Linked DNA regions of Homo sapiens. The protein of the gene in region 1 interacts with the protein of each later gene in a pairwise test. Each region holds a gene or a part of one and is shown in the gene's direction. Other genes may lie near its edges.

Region 1 (3,824 bases):
GTAGCAAAATCTCACAGAACATTGTAGAATGAACAGCGTTAGTGGCTCTAGACTAAGCCATAGATGGCACCCACATATAGCAGGAAATTGTAATTTATAAATATTTCCAGATTTATCAGGCAATTCTCTTTCCTAACATTGAAATTTTGAAAACAGTCACAGAATAAATGAACTAAAGACAAATAATGAAAGTCACATTATTACTTTTTCTTTTTCTTTTTTCTTTTCTTTTTTTGAAATGGAGTCTCGCTCTGACACCTAGGCTGGAATGCAGTGGCACGATCTCGGCTCACTGCAACTTCCATCTCCCGGGTTCAAGTGATTTTCCTGCCTCAGCCTCCTGAGTAGCTGGAACTACAGGCACGCACCACCACACTCGGCTAATTTTTGTATTTTTAATAGAGACAGGGTTTCACCATGTTGGCCAGGATGGTCTCGATCTCCTGACCTCGTGATCCACCCACCTTGGCCTCCCAACGTGCTTGGATTACAGGCGTGAGCCACCGCGGCCGGCCTACTTTTTCAGTCTCTTAGATAGATAATTCAGTTCTCCTTTGTGTGAAAAATATCTTTGACTAAGTTGTGTTGCTTTTTAATTTTTTCTTTTTAGCAGCCAACTCTTCCTGCCAAATAAATAGAGTCATCAGTCATCCTACTCTTCCGATCAGCATCACTGCTCATGAAGACAGGCACATCAAATTCTATGATAACAATACAGGTAAGAATTTATTAAGAATTGATTTTTATTAAAGCAAAAAAAAAAAATCCCTACCACAAGTAGGCTAATTTTGGTGTCTCTTGGTGGTTTCGTAGTCAGGGAATAGGCACTGAACCCCAAATACTCTCCCGTCTCAGTTTCTCTTCACTCTATCCAAATCTGCTAAGACTAGTCTTTATTATACAATACAGAATCATTTTGGTTTATTTAATAGTGAGCAGATGCTATATGTAGGCTTTAGAGCCAAGGTTATCACTAGGGACACCAGGAAAAGTTCACTCAAATACAAATAAAAATGATCTGTTGCTATGATCTATTGTAGTATTATATATTGGGGAAAAGTAGAAACATTGGAAATAGAGGCATATGGTCATTATATTTTGTTTAAAGTTGTTCAGTTATTGAATAGCATTATTCAATATTCAATTATTCCATTACCAAATAGCCTTTTTTAGTGTTGCGGATGGAAAACCTCCAGGTCATTGTATTCGTTTTTCCATAGACTAATCTTTTCTGTATTATAAAACTGACTGGTTGGTCCTCATTGATTTGAATTGTGCATGGAGATTTGCCCAAGTTTTATTTTATTACATTTCACCAGTATAAAGGAAATTTAGGAAGCACTGTGCTGGGAGGAAAGCACCCTATATTAGCTGCCATATTTACCTAAGTATCTGCCTTGTTAATATGTTGACTTCTGCTGACTTTGTTTAGCTGCTGGTGATGAATCATTTAATATTTAAAATTTTTTTCTGTATGTTGTATCCACCAAAATTGTGGCCATGTTTTCTTTCTGTCCCTTTTTCCTTGCCTCATTGTTTTCTCTCTGTGAATTTGAATTCTGTGTTTCCACAACTCATAATTTGCCAGTAGCTAAAGAATGCAAAGTAGGTGATTAATAATGTCTAAGTTCTAATTAACAAACGTGGCTTAAGGGTTGCGTGTAGAAATTACTGACTTCCATATCGTGGCTTAAAAGACAAAAGTGTAATCTAAAATTTGAGCTTTTTTTGGTTTTCCATATCATTGCCATGACTAGAGGCAAGAGGGAGACATGTTGTTTTAGGTGATGGAAAAAGCTATTAATACAGTAAGCACACAGAGAGGGATGACTGGAGAAACCAGCAGGACATGGTAGCTGGCAAATATTGAAGATGAGGAAAGGCATTAATAAGGAGTAACAATCTCTTTTTCCAAAGGCAAACTGATCCACTCGATGGTAGCCCACCTAGAAGCTGTTACAAGTTTAGCAGTTGATCCCAATGGCCTTTACTTGATGTCTGGCAGTAAGTACCTCAACTATGGATTATTTATTTGTCCTTACCATTTTCATGTTAATGTAATTTTTCCTTTTAATTTTTTTTTTGGATATAGGTCATGACTGTTCAATACGTTTATGGAATCTAGAAAGTAAGACGTGTATCCAAGAATTCACAGCTCATCGAAAAAAGTTTGAAGAATCGATTCATGATGTAGCTTTCCACCCATCCAAATGCTATATAGCCAGTGCTGGAGCTGACGCACTGGCTAAAGTCTTTGTATGACGCAATGCATCATCTTCACCTTCTAGCTGTTTATAAGTAATCAACTGCACACAAGAGATACAGAAGACGAGGGCAAGAATCATCTCGTCCTGCCCTTTTGTTCTGCTGAAGGAGCACAGAGAACATTTGTTGAAGTATAGTTTTGCAATTCATATACTGTTTTCTAAAACTAAGGTTTGTTCAGGTTGCTGCAAGCTCAGCTGAATCTGTGAGCCTGAGGTCTGTTTCAAATTTCTCCCCAATAGGCGCCTTTATTTCTGAGGTGGTTCTAATTCGCTAGGCAGGCCTGAGCGAATACAAGTTTAGCTTGTCCCTGTTGAGTAAGTAGGGCATGCTACAATGGATAATTTAAAAGCTTGATAGCTGGGACTGAATAGAAGAAAACGGGAAACTTAGACCAAGTTCTCCCCTGAGAAATCTTGTTAAAACACATTAAGTAGTCAAAATAGTAATCTTTATCATATCTGCCATATTAACCCCTTTGTGTATAATGACCAGGCAGTGTTAAACTGAGTTTTTAATTTGACTCTCCTTTCAGCTGTTCACATAAAGCACCTGGCAAAGCATTTTACCTGTTAGGGGGAGAAAAATGCAATAATATGTTAAATATATTATTATTCAGAAATGCTAGACAAATAGTTTGCAAGCAGATTTCTATATTGTATTACAGTTTTGAAAACAGATTTGGTATCATTCTAAAGTTTAGCTATCAAGCACTCACCATTGTGAAGAATAGTTGATCGACTCTGCTTTTACTAACAGATTTAACTTATTCAGGTTTGAAATTCTGTTTATTTTTAAGGGTAAACAGGGCATATCTCTTTAATAATTTCTATTTTAAAATTCACTTTATTCATGTGACATTTATAGTACCAGAGTGATTATTTCATACCAATGAAATCTTACTTTTCAGTGACTGAAAAGATAGAATTTATTTGCTAATAATCATTTATCAACACCCACCTAATCATGCTTCAGATGATCTGTGCTCTTTCTTCTTTGTCACGTTCAAGTTATCTGACATCTACCAAGAACAGTTCATAATTATTAATAGCCCAAAGAGTATGGTTAACTTCACGCAGCTGCTTTTGCAGAAGCACTAATAAAAACAAATATTTTGTACCCTAGAAGTCCTCTATTAATCCCTGTAAGAATCTCCTGGAAACCTGGATGAAAGAGTTTAATGCCAAATATTGGCTAAAAAGTTCTGTCTTTCTCTCTCCCTATTCCTCCCCCATTGTTTAATTGAGATATACATGTTTTAATGGGCAGTGGATCAGTATTGTTTCTGGGGAAATCCACACCTTAAAAGGCCAGGCTTCCCCAGCCCAACTTACCTGTGACCCACCTACATGTGTTCACCTTTTGGGATTCTGAAGACCCTGCTATCTAGACCTAGTCTCCTGTCATAAAGACATTATTTCTATAGTGGTTTATGTCTCTCTTACTCTTTGTCCCAAATGACAGAGACCAATCTAGAAATTGGAAATAAATTATTAACGTCCAACTTTCCACCAAAAAACATATAAATAGGCTCTTAGATTTTAAAAATATTAAATCTA
Region 2 (3,824 bases), on another chromosome or scaffold:
GAGAGCAGAGAGAGAAAGCAAGCTCTCTCGTGTCTCTTCTAATAATGGCACTAATCCCATTCATGAGGGCTACCTGCTCTGACCTAATTATTTCTCAAAGTCTCCACCTCCTAATACTATCACATTGGGAGATAGGATTTCAACACACAGATTTGGGCGGGGGGACAATAAACACTCAGTCCATAACAAACATGATGGTTAGTTCTTCCTTCCGAAATCATCAGGAGAGTCTTTCAAGAGGCTCCAGGCAGTGGTTTTCAGCATTCCCCACTTGCCTTCCAGGTGACAGGCACCAGCTCTGAAGTCTTTCCAGCCCAGCATCCTCCTCCCTCAGGCATCTGCAGGGATCTGTCTGACCACCTCTCCTCACAGGCTGGGGGCCTTCCTCCACAGGACACTCCCATCAAGAAGCCACCCAAACACCACCGTGGTAAGAGCAGAGCCTCCCTCACTCCACAGGGCCTGCAGAGAATCCTGAGACAACTGTCCCAGCTCACTGGCAATGGAGAGTCCCTGTCCCTCCCCACTTCCCTCACTTCCTCCCTGTAAGTTCTAAATCAACTTATCCTCCATCTCTCAGGTACTCAGACAAAGGCAGAAGGACCAACAATTAAGAACGATGCCAGTCAGCAAACCAAGTGAGTTCCTGACCCTAACCCTCTCACATCCCATCCATTCCTCTCTAGAGAGAACACAATGAATTTCCATGTCCGCCTTAATTAAGAAAGAGGAAGCCCTTCCCCACCCTACTGGCTCTTCAGAAGGAATCAACCCACTGCCTCCTGACTTGATTCTTTGGTCCATTATCATTATTTTTAATTTCTTCTCTTTCCAGTTACGGAGTTGCAGTTCTGGATAAGGTAAGCACATATTCACTTTGAAGGGGTCAAATCAGAAAGTATTAAGCTCTGACATTCTGGAATTCCATGATAAACTTGGCTGGGATGGAGGGGCATCTTCTTCCTGGATGGCAAGGGGGTACTGAGCATAGACATGGGGACTAAAGGGACCCTGTCAGAGCCAAAGCAGAAGAGGTTTGCTCTACACAAGCCAGCCCAGGCTCTGGTTCTATATCCCAGGGTTTCAGGGGACTTACAGACATTTTGAATACCCTTGTTCTTTCTCTCCAGGAAATCATCCAGCTTTCTGATTACCTCAAAGTAAGTGGCATGTGACCCCTCCCCTCAGTTCCTCCATCCACTTACCCCCGATCCTCCAGGTTAATCTTACCCTCTTGCACTTTGTGCCCGCACCCCCAGGAGGCCCTACAAAGGGAGCTGGTCCTAAAACAGAAAATGGTGATTCTCCAAGACCTACTGTCCACTCTGATTCAGGCCTCTGACAGCTCTTGGAAGGTAAGGGAATGAAATTCTTTTTGAACAAAGCTTGGGCTTCTATGTGTTCCCATCTCATTTTTCTTTCCACATCATCACAGTAAGAGAAGGGGTTTTCTCACTACTGAAAAGTAAGCTGGGAAGAGGCAGGAGATGAGGGGGATGGTGCTCAGACCTAGAAGTCAAACAGGTCACAATAAATATATGGGTCATCACCTGAGGGTCATGGTGCTACATATCCAAGGAAGACCCAGAAACAAAAGTGGCAAGAATTCCCATTTTTTAATTTGTTGGAAGGAATGAAGGAAGATCCCAATATAGTTTACATTACTAAATATGCTAAATGTCAAATATTTTCATATGGGATTCCCACTGATATTTATCGAAACCAGCATGCCATGTACCCACTCAGTCCGAATAAAAATATCAGAGTGGGAAGGGACCTTAGAGACAATCTGGCCTAATACTCTCATTTTGCCCATGAGGAAACTGAGCTTCATAGGGGTCAAGTAACTTGCGAAAAGTCACACAGCTAGGTAGTGGCAGATCTGCAACTAAAATTCAGGCCTTTGATTTTAGTCCATTCAATGTACAATATTCATAGGTTATGTCCTCTATACAGAGCACTGGACTAGCACTAGAAATAATGAGATTATTTAGATAGGGTTCTTGCTTTGAGAAGGCTCACGGTTTTGTAAGAAAGACACATGACTAAACAATACAAAAACATGAAAAATAAAAGAAATGTTTTCAAGATATAGGAAAATACAAGAAGGAATGAGTGACTCCAGAGAAGAAAAGAGCCAGGGGAATACTTATATAAGCATTTGCCAGGAAAATATGGAAGAAGGAATAGTATTTTAGTTGGGGTACAGGCAAAGGTCTAAAGGCAAGGCCGGGGGTGGTGGCTCACACCTGTAATCCCAGCACTTTGGGAGCCCGAGGCGGGTGGATCACCTGAGGTCAGGAGTTCAAGACCAGCCTGGCCAACATGGCGAAACCCCGTCTCTACTAAAAATACAAAAATATTAGCTGGGTGTGGTTGCACATGCCTGTAATCCCAGCTACTCAGGAGGCTGAGGCAGGAGAATCGCTTGAACCAAGAAGGCAGAGGTTGCAGTAAGCTGAGATCACCTCATTGCACTCCAGCCTGGACAAAAGAGCGAGACTCCATCTCAAAAAAAAAAAAAAAAAATCTAAAGGCATGACACAGTCTAGTAAAATGGTTCTCCAATTTTTTTATTTCAGGATTCCTTTATACTTTTTAAATTATTGAAAATATATAAGAAATGTTTATATTTACCATACTAGAAATTAAAACAGTTGGCCAGGTGCCGTGCATCATGTCTGTAAATCCCAGCACTTTGGAAGGCTGATGCAGGAAGATCACCTGAGGTCAGGAATTAGAGACCAGCCCGGCCAACATGGCAAAACCCTGTCTCTACTAAAAATACAAAAATTAGCCAGGCGTGGTGGTGCACACCTGTAATCTCAGCTACTCCGGAGGCTGGGCCACGAGAATCGCTTGAGCCCAGGAAGTGGAGGTTGCAGTGAGCGATGATAGTGCCACTACACTCCAGCCTAGATGACAGAGCAGGACTCTGAGAGACAGGAGAGAGAGAGAGAGAGAGAGAGAGAGAGAGAGAGGGAGAGAGAGAGAGAGGAAGGAAGGAAGGAAGGAAGGAAGGAAGGAAGGAAGGAAGGAAGGAAGGAAGGAAGGAAGAAATTAAGATAGAAATTGAGAAAGAATTATTAATTTTAAAATAATGAGAGTAAAATTTTTCATGCTAACCTGAATTACATGTTTTAAGAAAAACAGTCTGGGTGCGGTGGTTCACACCTGTAATCCCAGACTTTGGGAGGCCAAGGCAGGTGGATCACTTGAGCTCAGGAGTTCAAGACCAGCCTGGGCAACATGGCAAAACCTCGTCTCTACTAAAAATACAAAAAATTAGCCAGGTACATTGGCATGCACCTGTAGTCTTAGGAACTCAGGAGGCTAAGGCAGGAGAATCTCTTACGTCCCAGGGGTGGAGGTTGCAGTGAGCCAAGACTGCACCACTGCATTCCAGCCTGGGCGATGGGAGTGAAACTCTGTCTCAAAAAAGAAAAAGAAAAAGAACCATATTTTCAAAAACAAAATTAGTGACAGGAGTATCATTGCTTTACACTTTTGCAAATATTTTTAATGTCTGGCTGAAAAAAAAGACAGCTAGCTTCTCAATTTGCTTCTGTATTCAATCTATTGGTTTAAACATAAAGAAAAATTCAGTTTCACACAAATATGTCATTAGAAAAAGTAAGACTTTGCTGATCCCTTAAAAGGGTCTTGGGGATTCCCAAGTTTCCTCAGAATCCCCATGTTGAAACCTGTAAATTAGTATGTACTATAAATTCATGTATTAATATGAGCTACAAGCAGCTTGACACCACCAAAGCATACCGCACCGGGTGGAAAGAGATGGAGCACACAACCTCACCGGCCTGTGT

The links.
Region 2: the proteins of STRN (region 1) and TRAF3IP3 interact in binary tests that used the Homo sapiens proteins (3 or more experiments, as listed by UniProt).

Annotation. Positions count from the first base shown.
Region 1 is NC_000002.12:36,847,894-36,851,717, reverse strand, and holds part of STRN (striatin), read left to right. Parts: intron 1-610; coding exon 611-718; intron 719-1,917; coding exon 1,918-2,004; intron 2,005-2,092; coding exon 2,093-2,262; 3' UTR 2,263-3,824. UniProt on the Homo sapiens protein: Calmodulin-binding scaffolding protein which is the center of the striatin-interacting phosphatase and kinase (STRIPAK) complexes.
Region 2 is NC_000001.11:209,762,233-209,766,056, forward strand, and holds part of TRAF3IP3 (TRAF3-interacting JNK-activating modulator), read left to right. Parts: intron 1-282; coding exon 283-430; intron 431-580; coding exon 581-638; intron 639-835; coding exon 836-860; intron 861-1,130; coding exon 1,131-1,160; intron 1,161-1,259; coding exon 1,260-1,355; intron 1,356-3,824. UniProt on the Homo sapiens protein: Adapter protein that plays essential roles in both innate and adaptive immunity. Plays a crucial role in the regulation of thymocyte development.